Homo sapiens: one gene and its partners. The protein of the gene in region 3 interacts with the protein of the main gene of each other region in a pairwise test. Each region holds a gene or a part of one and is shown on either strand. Other genes may lie near its edges.

Region 1 (5,215 bases), on a different chromosome or scaffold from region 3:
GGGAGGATTGCTTGAGCCTAGGAGTTTGAGACCAGCTTGGGCAACACAGTGAGAGCCCATCTCTAAAGAAATAATTTTTTTTTAATAAATAAAAAGAATTCCAGGGACTTGTAATGCTCTGAAGGCTTCCCTAAGGAGGTGGAATTGCTCCCCTAAATCCATGTCAAGGATTCCTCCTCTGTATCTTCAGGACTCAGTATTCATTCATTCAACACAGAACTGAGCTAGACTCAGGGGCTAGGAAGGAACCTGTCCTTATATAGCTCTCATGCTAGAAGGAAGATGCAGAAACTATAAATGTACTTGAGTGTTTATATATAAAATTGTACTGAATGCTATGAAGGAAAAAACGGACACGATCTAGACTGGGAGGTCAGAGGAGGCTTCCCTAAGGAAATAGCATTTGAACTGAGTTCTCAGCATGACTGAGAATTAAGTAGGCACCAGTGTTCCAGAAGGAAGGGGTGGTGAGTCTGTAAATCCTCAGGTGGAGGACATGTGGAGCCCAAGGGGTGGGCTGGGGGAAATGGTGGAAGATCAGCTTGCAGAGGTGGCCAGAAGCACGATCCTAGAGGTCTTAGAGGTTCAGTCATTCGCTCATCATGGATCTTGGAAGGCAATAGCCTGTTGACTTGTCTGTATGGGGGACCCTTAAGGCATAGCCAGTGTCTAGCACTTGGTAGGTTCTTAGTAGCATTGAATGGGTGATGTAAGCTTTAAAGGGGGAATGAGTTGGATGGTGTTTTTATTTTTTAAATTAAACCTCCCTCTCACCAGTACCATGGACATATTTGGGCACAGTTGTTGGTAAATGCTCAGCTCTGTGTATCACAGAGCCATGCAGAGTAATGGGCTTCAAATCAACGTCTTCATAAGGGCTTATTAATGTTGGCCCAAAATATGCCATATGTATAGAGGAGCAAAACACAATTTACACCATCCAAATAAAGGTCAGGATGCAGGTGAATGAGCCTACCATGGAATCTCAACTGATTCAGTTCTGAAATCTCCTAAACTTTTGTTGCGTTGGTTATAGAGTGCCGGCAGTGCACCTTAAGCAGTGCCTGCCTGAACTCCTGTTGCTTGTATAGTCCTAGTCATTTTGTGTTTTACTTTTCACCTTTGGTCCAGTAACGTCCATTTCAGCTTCTGATGTCACTTTCCCTTCAGCCTTTGGTTCTTTTACTATTTCAGGGAATATTTCATCTTGTTTTGGTGATAGTTAGAAGCAGTTGAAATTAACCTCACGATGTGTTGAGGATTCAGTTGCTAGTAATGGTAACCAACACATCGGCTCAAGCAAAACAGTATGGATTACAAGGCTGCAAGTGTTTCTCCAGGAATCCTAATCTCTGCTGGTTTTTTTTTTCCCCCTCTTTGCTTTGTTTTTGTCTCCCTACAGATTGGTTTTCTATTTCTTGGGCCAGTGGTAGAAAAAATGTGGTTCCTTCCCAGTTCCTCTGTAAAAGAGACCATTCCTTCTCGTTCAGTTCTGAACTCATGTTTCCAAGAGAAAGAAACTCTAGTTCTTTTAGGGGGTTGAGGGAAAGGATGGACAGAATAATTAGGCTCAAACATGGCCACTAGAGGATGTGTCACACTTGGGAGAAGTCAGTTTGTGAGAAGGGAGGGTGGATCATTTTAGTTATTGGCAGAAAATGGAACCCTCTTCAGGTAGTTCAGGAGACTTTTATGATGGGACTCTAGAGCAGTATGGGGGGGGTTTCAGGGAACCAATAAGAGATGTTGAGGAGCCCCAAGACAACTACTGGGAGTGGCTACTGCCCCTATTCCAAAGGGGCCAGGGGAGGAAACAGTATTACCACATTTCAGTGATAGCTGGAACTGTGGAGGAAGGGCTGCCCAACATAAGTCATAGTCTTCGATAGATGCAGGCACTATCAGAAATGTGGCCACTAGATTGGGGGTGAGGGGCACCCTCTGATCTGGTATCTTCCACTGGACAAACCCAACCAGAAGCCAGCAAAGGGAGTCTAGGTGATACAATTTGAGTCAACCTGGTGAACAGATCCCCTCTCCCAGGGGAGAACAGAGAATCAAAAAGGTGGATTAAATCGGTATTTTGATAAATAATTTGATTGGTTTCTGTTAGGTTCTCTTTCAGTCTTTGAAGGCTATATCCCATTCTTATTAGGTACATATTATAATTTTTATTTCATTGAATATTTACAACAGTTCTGAAGGTAAATGTTATCTCTATAGATGAGGAACTGAGCTCGGGCAGGTTGAGTCGCTTGTCAAGGTGACACAGTAATTGAGTGGTGGCACTGGGATTTAAATCCAGACCTGTCTGATTGCAAAGCCCATACTTGACTCTGAGGCCACCTTCCTGCTGCAGTGAAAGTCATTTCTTCCATTTCCTCAGTAGGGATCCAGAGATCAAGGCAGGAGAGAATCTTTGCTTCCTCTACCTCCTTTTCTTTCCCCCTTTCTCTAAAAGCTTGTGGGGAAACTGGAAGGGAAAGAGAAAGTTCTAATTGACACCTCCCACTCCCCAGTTTTTCTAGAGCTTAAATAGTATATGGCATATACTGCTGTATTGTTTTGGTTGCATTTTTCCCACATTGAGTATAAGTTCCTTTAGAACCCTATATTGCATTTCTTTGTATAGCTTTTGTCTTACTAGTATCATAAACGATTTACTCTGCCCATACCATGCAGAACTTGGAGCAGACTTCAGAATTTTTAGAATCTAGGATTTATCCTCTTTTCTGGCTTACTGGGCTAGATGTGTGTTTTCCTCATCCATGAGAAGCCATTGCTAACCTCCCTCTTAGCCCAGGGATTCTGAAGCCTTGAAGTGCATTTTACTCACCTACAAAATACAGATTCTGAGGCTTTACCCCAACATTCTGAATCAGACTCTCTGGGGCTGGGGCCTGAGAATGGACATTATCATAAAGTGTTGGGAAATTTGGGGGCAGCCACCAGACATTGGCCCATGGGTAAGCCACTGACCAGAGATAAAGAAATCTCTGCTCTCTCCTGCTGAAGTCATATGGTTTCCTGCCTCTTTTTGAATGAGGCTTTGGAGTCAGACTGAGCAGGCACCTTCACCATTTACAATAAGTGGTTTTACTTGCATAACTGAACCTGCTTCCCTTGTGTAAAATGGGGACTTATGCACCTGGAAGTAGAATGGGGTTATGAGGAATGATGAGATAAGAGATGTCAAGCACTTGGGCTGTGGTTAACACAGAAAAAATGCTGGCTCCCTTTCAAGTTTGTTTTTCCATCAGAAGTGTGACTTTGTCTTAAACCATCCACACTAGATCCCCAGCCTTCATAGTGACCTCATTAAAGATTCAGCCTGTGGCTCCTGAGAATTAAACCTCTTTTGATTTGAAGGAATCGGGATTTTTCAATTATCTCAAGAAAAGGGATAGGCCAGGTGCAGTGGCTCACACCTGTAATCCCAGCCCTTTGGGAGGCTGAGGTGGGAGGATCACCAGAGGCCAGGAGTTGGCATCCAGTCTGGGCAACATAGCAACACCCTATCTCTAAAAAAAATTAGGTGTGTGGTGGTGTGTGCCTGTAGGCCTAGCTGCTTGGGAGGCTGAGGCCAGAGGATCGCTTGAGCCCAGGAGTTGGAGATTTCACTCCAGCCTGGGTGACAGAGAGATACTCTGTCTCTTAAAAGAAAGAAAAAGAAAAAAGAGAAGGGGGATCTGTGGCAAGAGCTGGAAAGTCCCCAGACAGCTCTGAGGTACCGCCTCTCATGGGCTCCGTGGATTATCTCATGGCCTGTGTGGCTGTCTGTCTTTATCTCTAGTGACATCTCTGCTTTTCTCTGCCAAGATTTATCCCTTCTCTGCAGCCACTTGCTGTCCAGCTTCCCTTCTTTGTAGAATCTGCCTCTGCCCAATACCTTTACTTTCGTGTGGCCTCTCTGGGCTCCTCCATATCATGACCTGTCAGCTCCTCTTTAACTCCTTTCTTCTCTCAAGTGTTTCTCAGATCAGAGACCAGATTGCAATGAGAGAATCAGTTTGGTCTGGTAGTATTTCACGCCAAAAAGAGTTGGTCACCCTTTGGATTATATGCCTTTGGTTCAGGCACCTACCCCTGGTCCTGGCTGTTGGGGATGGATGGTGACTGTTATGTGGCCTTTACAGGGCTTTAGGCACAATAAAGCTTTCCCAGGTTCAGCCTACTGAGTGCTATGGCTATGACCTGGACATTAAACTGGCCCTCATAGGTTCAGACCTGGCCATGGCAATTGACGAACCCTACCACAGGGCTCTTGGAACCCTGTGAAAGCCATTTTATTGTATGTTCTTGGCTGTTGAAGGGAGTTGTAGCCCAGCTGATGGCTTCCATTTCTTTTCTGTGGATCTTGCTTTCATCATAAGCATTGTTTAGGGGTATAGCATGGAAGAGGGAGATCAGGGCCTCAGCCTGGTTTTCAACTATGAGATTGAGCAGTCAGTATTCGGTTGCTCAGTCTGGCCATGACAGAATTGGAGCCAGCCCTCAGGACTCTTGATTTTTAGCTCTCTGCCCTTTCTGTTTACAGACCCATGGCACAGAAAGCCTTATGCCCAGACACTGCAGGATGCAGAGTTATGGAGCCATATCCTTTCAGAGGAATGCCTGGCTACTCAACAGGGTTGGAAAGTCAAACAAGGATCAACACCTACTTTTGCCTGCTGTGTGATGGGCCCGAGCCTGCAAAGCTGGACCAAATGTGGCCCCTTTCCTAAGGGCGGGGGGCAGTCACCTTCTAGTAGGGGAAGGAATTTAGTCTCACTTCTCCTTTAGGAATCTGGAGTATTAGACAAGTCAAAGCAAGTTAATGAGGGGTTAACATAACCTCAGAGGACCACTTTGAGTCTAAAGTCCTTCCAGATGTGTCAGATTGGTAGCGCCAACTTGTCAGTTTCTATTAAGAAGTAATAGGACTGGGCTTCCTGGGTGTGAGGGAAAGTAGGTCTGTGCTTAAATGTCCTTCCACTCTGTCACAAACAGGAGATTGAAACTTAGGTGCCTCCATTCTTATCTGTAACCTCTCTCAGGGTTGTTTTTGAGGATGCAGTGAGTTAATGCATGCCCCCAGAAGCAGGGGAAGGGAACTGCTTTGGGGGGACTCCTATGTGTTACACTGAAGGACTCCTTTAAATGCTTTATGACGTTTCTGTTCTCTTGTAACTCTGTAAGGTCGGGGTTATCCCTGCTTTCTAGATGAAGAAACAGG
Region 2 (5,215 bases), on a different chromosome or scaffold from region 3:
GGGATCTGATGGAGCAGCCTGGGTGGGCCGGAGGAGCTGGGCACTGCCCTGCTGGGGACAGAGCCAGGCCTCAGCGGGAGTTGTTAGGAGATGGCTGACAGGAAGGAGGTTTCACTGAGTTTTGGGCCCGGCTGGCAGGGTCAGGGCTGGGAAGTATAACTGAAGCTGGTGGAGGGAGAAGCTCTTGAAAGTGGATGGGCCCCTTCTGACAAGGAGGAACTTGGTGGTGTCCTGGGGACCAAGGCCCACGTCATGCTTTAGCAAGAGTGACTGGGACCAGGATGACTGGGCAGAGCCACAGCTGAGTAGGAAAAACTGAGCCATCTTTCCTGGTGTGCGTGTGCGTGTGCATGTGTGTGTGCATGTGTGTGTGTGCATAGAACCTTTGAGAAAAGGATCATTTGGTGGGTGCTGACCAATGGAAGAACACTGCTGGGCAGATAGACTGGGCCGTGAGCTCCCATACCTGCTAGTCTAGGTGACCTTGTGGGAATGGTCCCCATGGGGATGGGCCATGATGGGAGAAGGGTCTCTGAGGATGATGTCCTGTGGGCAGGAGCAGGCACCTGTCTTGTGGAAGGCCAAGGTCATGGGCTGCCAGAGGAGGGGCCTAGGCTTCAGGCTGGGGAACGTTGGTCAGAGAGACCAACTTCTGCCTTGGCCCACATGTGGGGGTATCTGGTCACTCAGGCTGTGGCCCAGCCTACAGTATCCTCTTGGGTCAAAATTGGTGGGGAATCCATTTTCTCAGAGGGCTCATGAGCTGCCTCCGAAGGCCCTTCCTATAGAGGATGCTGGGTCCTCTGAGCCTGTTGACTTCTACGAGGGATCCGAAAGGCCAAAACTCAAAGCTGCTATCTTTGTTCAAATGTCAGCCCTGCATTGCAGTTGTCCCCAGATAAGTACAGTTGAGGAAGCATTGACTTCTGACTGAGTCTTGGTGACACCACATCTCACTGCTTCATGGTCTTTAGTCTGGCCTCATTCCTCACATGGGTGGGAGCTTGACGTGACGGATGAAGTCTAGTCTAGGGCAGCAGTGCACTGGTGGGGGCAGGGGTCAGACAAGGCCTTGAGTAAGGGCACCTTTCAGCATGAGAGCAGACCCACGCTGGTTTTCCCCAGGGCTTCCTGACTGCAAAGGCAGATGCCTCACCTCTGGGCCTGGGTTTCAAGAAGCCTCTGGTCAGCCTTGCGTGAGCAATATGGTCCCAGAGAGCCCCGGGGAATGATGTACCCCCGAGGCCATTTCCTCACGGGAAACATTTGCCCTCTGTGCTTGATTTTATTTTGAACAGTTCAAGCTTGAGACTCAACAGAAGATATTTCATCCCATTTGTTTCTTTATTGATAATTCGTAATATTTCTTTTGACATGTAAGCATCATCACCAGAGACTGTTACAGTGTGAATAGCTAACAATACAGAACACAGAGGGAATTTAATCTTATACTTAGTTAATTTACATTTTGTAATAAGCAGTACATTCAAACTTCTGAAACCAAACCAAACCAAAGAAAAACATGCCATGAAAAGTCTCTCCCCCTCACCTCCACTCACTCACTTCCTACCTCCCTGAATGAGCAACCACTGTAAATGTTTCTCATATATCCTTTGGAGAGATTTATATTGCACATCGTCTTATTTTCTTCCTTTTTTACACAAAAGGTTGTACATTATACATGCTGTGCTGTACCTTGTTTTTTATTTTTTAACATAACAATGTATCTTGAAGATCTTTTCATATCAATTCACAGAAGGAAGCCTCATTCCTTTTCAGCTGCTGCACAGTTTTCCATTATGCAAGTATGCCTGGCTGAGTTAACCAACCCCCCACAAATAAACTCTTGGGTTGTTTCCAGTCTTTTGCTACAAGAACCTTGTACATACATCACTTCTCACATGTGTAAGTTGAGCTGTAAAATAAATTCCCAGAAGTGCAATCGCTATATCAAAGGGAATGTGCATTTGTGGCTTTGATAGATTTGTCGACTTGTCTAGCACAGGTGTTGTTACCACTTCCACCAGAATTGTATGAGAGTCCCGTTTTCCTACAGTCTTCCTAGCACAGTGTTTCACTGACCGGTCACATGATGTGGTAGCAAATGTCCAGGGTAAGGACCTCAACTCTGGGAAAAACTGTACCTCCCGGGAAGGTCTTTAGGACAGGAGGGGCAGGAGCACCGGATGACTAAGCCTGTGGGTCAGCCCAAGCTCGAATCCTCAGGCAAACCAATAAATCTCTCTAGGTCTCAGTCTTCTCATCTGCAAAGTGGGGAAAATAACCTACCTTGAGGGTCATCATGAGGATTAGATGACATGATGCCTGTCAAAAGGGCTTTGCACAGTCCCTGGCACATGGCTGCGGGAGGCTGACTCTGAACTTACCAGCAGGTGACCTTGGGAAAGGCAGTGCCTTACCTGAGCCCCTGCTGGTGTATTCTCTGGTCAGGGAGGGAGTTGGGGTCAGGTCCTCTTCATAGTCTCAGGGTCTGACCTGTCTTTCTTTAGCAACGTGTATAACCTCCACTCACCCTTCCTCTCTCCTGCTCATCAAAGGTATTCAGGAGTCTCCGGTGCCGAACGGCCACTCGCTTCCGGGCAGAGACTTCCTCCGGAAGCAGATGCGGGGAGACTTGTTCACACAGCAGCAGCTGGAGGTGCTGGACCGCGTGTTTGAGAGGCAGCACTACTCAGACATCTTCACCACCACAGAGCCCATCAAGCCCGAGCAGGTACGCCTCGTGATGCACGCCCACCACACCTGCCACCGCCACACCGGCCCAGCCAGGTTCCTGAAGGCAGAGGCATCTGGCGGGGTGTGGGTGAGGGCACACCAGGTTCTGCTCAGAGAGGTCTCTTCAGTGTTCTTGGCCAAACTTGGGCAGTCGCTACATCCTATAAGGTCGGGAGGGCTTGTCTGGGCCTCCAGTGGCTTCTTGCCCTGGTGCCTCTGTCGCTGGCCAGCCAGGGGGTGGGTGACTTCTCTGGCTGCTCTGGTGTCCTTTCCAAGGGCTCTTTGGACAGAAGGGTGTAATGATCTTTCGGGCCACGTAAGGTGGTCTTGGGTCAGTATCTTGTCAGTCAGGGTGATGGTGGAAATATGTAACCAGCACGCGGCCTGGGGGCTCACCGGCCGTGAACAATGGAATGACGGAGCGGGTGGGTATCCCACTGTCTGCCCTCTCACCAGGTCGCCTTGTCATTCTCTTAGTGACTGAATCCAAAATTCTGGAGATAAAGAAATGTCTCATTGCACAAACTCCCACCTGGGTTATTTGCAAGAGAGGGAGAAAGCAGGAGGACCAGCCCTGGCTGACCGGCTGTCTGCTATACCCTGGGCAGAGTAGTCACTACCTGTGGCTATAGAGATGAGATCACGAGGCTCGGCCCAGTGAGAGGCTCTTGAGGCCTGACTAAGATCTCTGGACTATCAGATTCAGTTCATAAGACTATTTCCTGACACCCAGTGTGTGCCAGGGCCTTGACAGGTAACCTTGCAGGCTAGACATGGCTCTGGACTGCCAAGAGCTCCCACCTGGTGGGCCAACCAGAGAGACCCTACAGACAACAACTTTCCTCGGCACTTTCCTCGCTGGTACTAGTGGTGAGAACTGGCTGCGCTGAGTTTCCTCTAAATGCTAATTAGAGGATGCTTCTGAATCTTCTCCAAAAAGTCAGTCCAAGCAGTGTAGCCTCCCTGCACAGCTCCCATGGAGAGGCGAGGTGCTGGAGAGAACCGTGTGGTGAGGGAAGAGCAGGGCCTCTGGGGCCACCCATCTATGACAGTCTGTCTGTGTCTGAGCAGTTTCTATGAGAGCTCTTACAGACCTTCTAGCCACTTTGTTTTCAGATGGTAAAACCAAGGTCCAGAGAGGCAGAGCAACTTGCCTAAGGCCACGCTGCAAGACGCATTCACATAACAAATATGATGAGTGTTTACTTTGTGCAAGGCCTGGAGCCATGCACTGGGTCACATCAGTGAACAAGATGGTCTTGGACCTCCCCTCAGGGAGCCTACAGACTTGTGGAAGAATCCCAATAGAAGAATTACCTAAAGGGTCATGGGTTACAGGTGCGCTTGGTGCTAAGGAGGAGGTGTCTGAGGTTCTCTGAGAGCCTAAAGGAAAGGCTGAGCCAGCCTGGAGGCCTCAGTGGCCTCCTGGGGGAAAGGTATTTATGCTGAGCCTGAAGGGGTTGAGTGGAGCAAGGAGAAGGGGTGTGGGGGTGGAGGGAAAGTGCCTGGCAGAGGGGACAGCAAGTGCAAAGGCCCTGAGTTGAGAGGAAGGCGGCAGGAACGAGGAATGGAGAGAGCCGGTGTGGTTGTGGCTCAGGGATGGGCGGGCGATGATGCTGGGGAGGTGGGCCTGGTCTTGTAGACTGGGTTGAGGATTTTAGTCTTTCTCTTACAAGTCGAGTGACACCTCTGTTGGGTAGGACATGGTTATGGTGCTGGGCATAGCCGCCCCCACACACTCTAGATCTTGGACTTCAGGGAGGAGAGTCTGTTTCTATCACAAGCACCCTCTCTGCTCTGCTCAGAGCCCTTCTGAGAGACGGCAGAAGGCACATTTTCTCTGACACGGGAGGAGAGTGAGAGGGGCCTCGATCAGGAAACCTTCCTGGATGAGGCCTGTCCTTCCCTCCAGAATGTGGAAGAAAGTTTATCTTCTTTTTTTTTTTTTTTTTGTGAGCTGGAGTTTTGCTCTTGTTGCCCAGGTTGGAGTGCAGTAGTGTGATCCTAGCTCACTGCAACCTCCACCTCCTAGGTTCAAGTGATTCTCCTGCCTCAGCCTCCTGAGTAGCTGGGATTACAGGTGCCTGCCACCACGCCCGGCTAATTTTTTTGTATTTTTAGTAGAGATGGGGTTTCACCATGTTGGCCAGGCTTAGTCTTGGACTCCGGACCTCAGGTGATCCACCCTCCTTGGCCTCCCAAAGTGCTGGGATTATAGGTGTGAGCCACTGCGCCCAGCCAGAAGGTTTATCTTTTTTCTTTTTTTGAGACAGAATCTTGTTGTGTCGCCCAGGCTGGAGTGCAGTGGCGCGATCTCGGCTCACTGCAAGCTCCACCTCCCGGGTTCGCGCCTTTCTCCTGCCTCAGCCTCCCGAGTAGGACGGACTACAGGCACCCGCCACCATGCCCGGCTAATTTTTTCTATTTTTTAGTAGGGGCAGGGTTTCGCCGTGTTAGCCGGGATGGTCTTGATCTCCTG
Region 3 (5,215 bases):
ACAGACACAATTGGTTAAAGCAATTGAAGATCATTTTCAAGTGTTAGAAAAATTTTACTACTAAACATAAACACAGGCTGAGGTGGGTGGATCATCTGAGCTCAGGAGTTCAAGAGCAGCCTGGGCAATATGACGAAACATCATCTCTACCAAAAATACAAAAATTAGCTGGGCGTGGTGGTGTAGTGCATGCCTGAAGTCCCAACTACTCAGGAGGCTGAGGAACGAGAATTGCTTGAGCCTGAGAAGCACAGGTTGCAGTGAGCCGAGATCATACCACTGCACTCCAGCCTGGGTGACGGTGAGACTCTGTTATTCCCTGCAGCCACGCCCTCTCACCCCTCCCCGCTCCCCCCTCCAAAAAATAAAGGTACTGATATTTGCAGTTGCTTGACTCTGAAATACTTTACTTGGCTCCATGGTTATTTCTTTATTGTTACCTTTTATCCGTTGCATCTTTTTGGTGACAGCCAGGAATGACAGTCAAGTTATCTTTACTTATAAGGAAGTATACCTATGGTTTTGAAAATACATGGTGTGTTTAGTACATTTTTGCATGTTACTTAAAACCACTTGTGTACAGTTCTTTTCCATATATTTGACCAATACAGGTTGGTAATTTTTAATTACAGAAATAATTAGTGAATACTTTTTCTAAAAATGCAAATAAAGACCTTCTGGACCAGCAACCCAAATCCTTGTTTCCTTCTTGCTTCTAAAAAGTGACTACTTCTAAAAAGTGACTACTGCCAGGCATTTATTATTATTATTAATGTTAACAGCTAAGGACAAAGTCTTTTTTAGAGAGCCTTTTGCAATTTTTATATTAACCTGTGACAGCCCAGTGATGATCACTATTCCTACTTAGAGAGAATAGGACTAACTTTCAGAAATCCAGGCATTTTTCTACCTTTCATACTATCTTTCTTTCACTTTACTTCTCTTTTCTGTCTTTTATCACTTCTTTCTTTCTTCATTCTTTCTCTCTTTTGCCTGGATCGAGATTGTTAAGTCCCTCTCAGTGAAGGGTAAGATTATGAGATCTGAGGGCTGTATAAATGTAGTAAGTTGTCCCTTAAGCATATTGAAATGTAGTGTGAAAGTTGGATGAAGGACATTTTCTAAACATATGCAAATACCATATCTATCATATCAGTTCATTTTCAAGATGTAACAGGTAATATAAATTTTTTTTTTTGAGACGGAGTCGTGCTCTGTCACCGGGCTGTAGTGTAGTGGTGCAGTCTCTGCTTACTGCAACCTCTGCTTCCCGAGTTCAAGCAATTCTCTGGCCTCAGCCTTCTGAGTAGCTGGGACTACAGGCATGTGCTAGCTAATTGTTGTATTTTTAGTAGAGACGGGGTTTCATCATGTTGGCCAGGATGGTCTCAATCTCTTGACCTCGTGATCCACCCAGCTTGGCCTCCCAAAGTCCTGGGATTACAGGCATGAGCCACCATACCCGGCCTTTTTTTTTTTTTTTTTTTTTAAAGACGGAGTTTTGCTCTTGTTGTCCAGGCTGGAGTGCAATGGCGGGATCTCGGCTCACTGCAACGTCCGTCTCCCGGGTTCAAGCGATACTCCTGCCTTAGCCTTCCAATTAGCTGAGATTACAGACGCATGCCACCACGCCCAGCTAATTTTTTGTATTTTAGTAGAAACTGGGTTTCACCATGTTGGCCAGGCTGGTCTCGAACTCCTGACCTCAGGTGATCTACCCGCCTTGGCCTCCCAGAGTGCTGGCATTATAGGTGTGAGCCACCGCATCTGGCCTAACTATTTTTAAAATTACTTTTTATAGCCAGTGGGGTGGCTCATGCCTATATTCCCCACACATTGAGAAGCCAAGGCAGGCAGATCACTTGATCTCATGAGTTGGAGACCAACCTAGGCAACAGAGTGAAACCTCGTCTCTACTGACAATATAAAAATTAGCCAGGCATACTGGTGTGCACCTGTAGTCCCTGCTACTTGGGAGACTGAGGTGGGAGGATAGCTTGAGCCCAGGAGGCAGAGGTTGTAATGAGCTGAGATCGCACCACCTCGCTCCAGCCTGGGTGACACAGCCAGACCTTTCTCAAAAAAAAAAAAAATTACTTTTTGTTAAGTGACATACTATTTTCATTGCTATTTAAGAAATCTAGTTTGTAATATAAAGTAATTCTATGGCAAAGTGTCACTTTATGTGAAACTCAACCCAACTTTTTTTTTTTTTTTTAAGACAGTGTTTTGCCCTGTCACCCAGGCTGTAGTGCAGTAACATGATCATGGCTCACTGTAGTTTTGACCTCCCAGGCCCAATCAATTCTCCACCTCAGCCTTCCTAGTAGCTGGGACTACAGGCGCATACCACCATGCCTAGCTAAGTTTTTGTATTTTTTTTTTTGTAAAGACAGGGTTTTGCCATGTTGTGCAGGCTGGTCTCAAACTCCTGGGCTCCAATGATCCTCCCACCTCAGCCTCTTAAAGTGCTGGGGTTACAGATATGAGCCACTGAGCCCACTGCGCCCAGCCTGATAATTTTATCTTTGTTTTTGTTTGTTTGTTTTTGTTTTTTGTTTGTTTTTGTATTTTTAGTTAGAGACAGAGGGTTTCACCATGTTGGCCAGGGTGGTCTTGATCTCTTGACCTCGTGATGCACCCGCCTTGGCCTCCCAAAGTGCTGGGATTACAGGTGTGAGCCACCACACCCAGCTACTTTAAGTTTTAATAATGGTAATTTTTTATGGTCTGTAAAGAATAAAACAGGACAACTAGAGATGCTGTGGGAATTTACGTTTAATTGGTGGGGTTATAATTATTCAAGAGGTTTTAAATCCTTATTCCTAGAGTCAGGAATTGGCAACATGTGATTTATATTGTTGGTTTATAACTATGAAAATAGATTACAAAAACTGAGATATATAAACTGCAAATAATGGGCCAAACATAAATCTCACTCTTCTTAATCTGTAGATCCAAGATCCTCAGTTGCTTGAGATTTTAGGTGTTTTTGCTACTGATTAAACTACATTCTTTTTATATTAGTCAACCTTAGCTTCATCTGTTGTAAGCTTTTAGGAAGTTGGGTGCTTATACCCATCATCCAAGATAAAAACTCCCTTTGTTAAAAGCAGATTGGTTGGTTTAACCACATTGCATACCTTAATTCATGCAGTCATGCCATGCTATTGGGTGCATTGGTATTTTCCTAGTTTGCTGTCCTACATATGGATCTTTTGATAAATCTCATTTGGTGATGGATGTTTAGTAAGATGCTAGGTTTTGTTTGTTTTGTTTTTTGAGACGGAGTTTTGTTTTTGTTGCCCAGGCTGGAGTGCAATGGTGTGATCTTGGCTCCCTGCAAACTCCACCTCCTGGGTTCAAGAGATTCTCCTGCCTCAGCCTCCTGAATAGCTGGGATTACAGGTGTTTGCCACCATGCCAGGCTAATTTTTGTATTTTTAGTAGAGATGGGGATTCACCATGTTAGCCAGGCTGGTCTAGAACTCCTGACCTCAGGTGATCTGCCCGTCTCCACTTCCCAAAGTTCTGGGATTACAGGCGTGAGCCACCATGCCCGGCTGAGGCTAGGATTTTAATTATATTCCAATATTTCTTACTCTCTTCATTATTACTCCCCTAAACAGCCTTTTTAGGCATTTTCCTCCTAGTTTCTGCCTGTGAAAATTTACTACTACAGATTATTGTATGTCTGTATGTATGTAATGTATGTATCTGTGCTTTATACATAAAATGATTACTTTTTGCCCTTCCTTCGCCCCCGTTTTTACTCCCATTAGCGTGGTTTTGCTTCCATTAAGAATGCATAGCTGGGCCTGGTGGCTCACACCTGTAATCCCAGCACTCTGGGAGGCCGAGGTGAGCAGATCACCAGGTCAGGAGATCGAGACCATCGTGGCCAACATGGTGAAACCCCATCTCTACTAAAAATACAAAAATTATCTAGGTGTGGTGGCACGTGCCTATAGTCCCAGCTACTCGGGAGGCTGAGGCAGGAGAATCTCTTGAACCCGGGAGGCGGAGGTTGCAGTGACCTGAGATCGCGCCATTGCACTCCAGCCTGGCGACAGAGCAAGACTCCGTATCAAAAAAAAAAAAAAAAAAAAAAAAGGGTGTTATAGGCCAGGTGTGATGGCTCATGCCTGTAATCCCGACACTTTGGGAGGCCAAGGTGGGCGGTTCACGAGGTCAAGAGTTCAAGACCAGCCTGGCCAACATGGCAAAACCCTGTCTCTACTGAAAATACAAAATTAGCCGGGTGTGGTGGCATATGCCTGTAGTCCAGCTACTTGGGAGGCTGAGGCAGGAGAATCGCTTGCATCTGGGAGGCAGAGGTTGCAGTGAGCCGAGATTGCACCACTGCGCTCCAGCCCGGGCAACAGAGCAAGACTCCATCTCACCAAAAAAAAAAAAAAGAAGAAGAAGAATGCATTGCATAGACTCATAAGCTTAAAACCTGGCTGATTTAAACATGTCGAGAGTGCCTCCAGTGACATTAGCTAAAATCCTAATTCTGAGTATTAAGGTAGAAGTAAGTTTCTTTCAAAGAACTTTGGATTTTCCCCCGTCTCTCCAAACACAACTTAAAATATATGTATATTATTGTCTTAGAGATAGGGTTTTCTCTGATGCCTGTGCATGAATTCAGTTGTGCAATCATAGCTCGCTGCAGCCTCAAACTCCTGGGCCCAAGCAGTCTTCTGCCTCAGCCTTCCAAGTAGCTGGGCATATTATAGGTGCATACCACTGCACATTTTAATTTTTTTTTGCAGTGATGGGGTCTTGCTGTGTTGCCCCAGCTGGTGTCGAACCCCAGATCTCAAACAATCCTCCTGCCTCAGCCTCCCAAAGTGCTGAGATTACAGGCGTGAGCCACTGTGTCCAGCCCACAACATTTTTTAATGTAAAATTTACTTCACTTTGGCCTGGCACGGTGGCTCACACCTGTAATCCCAGCACTTTGGGAGGCCAAGGCAGGCATATCACAAGGTCAGGAGATCGAGACCATCCTGGCTAACACGGTGAAACCCCATCTCTACTAAACAAAATACAAAAAATTAGCTGGACGTGGTGGCTGGCGCCTGTAGTCCCAGCTACTTGGGAGGCTGAGGCAGGAGAATGGCGTGAACCCGGAAGGCAGAGCTTGCAGTGAGCTGAGATGTGCCACTGCGCTCCAGCCTGGGCAACAGAGCGAGACTCCATCTCAAAAAAG

What was found. The genes of interacting proteins can lie anywhere in the genome.
Region 1: the proteins of LARP4 (region 3) and EXOSC7 interact in a two-hybrid assay, tested with the Homo sapiens proteins (one large-scale study listed by BioGRID).
Region 2: the proteins of LARP4 (region 3) and PAX5 interact in a two-hybrid assay, tested with the Homo sapiens proteins (one large-scale study listed by BioGRID).

Annotation. Positions count from the first base shown.
Region 1 is NC_000003.12:44,978,230-44,983,444, forward strand, and holds part of EXOSC7 (exosome complex component RRP42), read left to right. Parts: intron 1-5,215. UniProt on the Homo sapiens protein: Non-catalytic component of the RNA exosome complex which has 3'->5' exoribonuclease activity and participates in a multitude of cellular RNA processing and degradation events.
Region 2 is NC_000009.12:36,964,068-36,969,282, reverse strand, and holds part of PAX5 (paired box protein Pax-5), read left to right. Parts: intron 1-2,558; coding exon 2,559-2,734; intron 2,735-5,215. UniProt on the Homo sapiens protein: Transcription factor that plays an essential role in commitment of lymphoid progenitors to the B-lymphocyte lineage. Fulfills a dual role by repressing B-lineage inappropriate genes and simultaneously activating B-lineage-specific genes.
Region 3 is NC_000012.12:50,455,734-50,460,948, forward strand, and holds part of LARP4 (la-related protein 4), read left to right. Parts: exon of another isoform or gene 1-695; intron 696-837; exon of another isoform or gene 838-1,053; intron 1,054-5,215. UniProt on the Homo sapiens protein: RNA binding protein that binds to the poly-A tract of mRNA molecules. Associates with the 40S ribosomal subunit and with polysomes. Plays a role in the regulation of mRNA translation.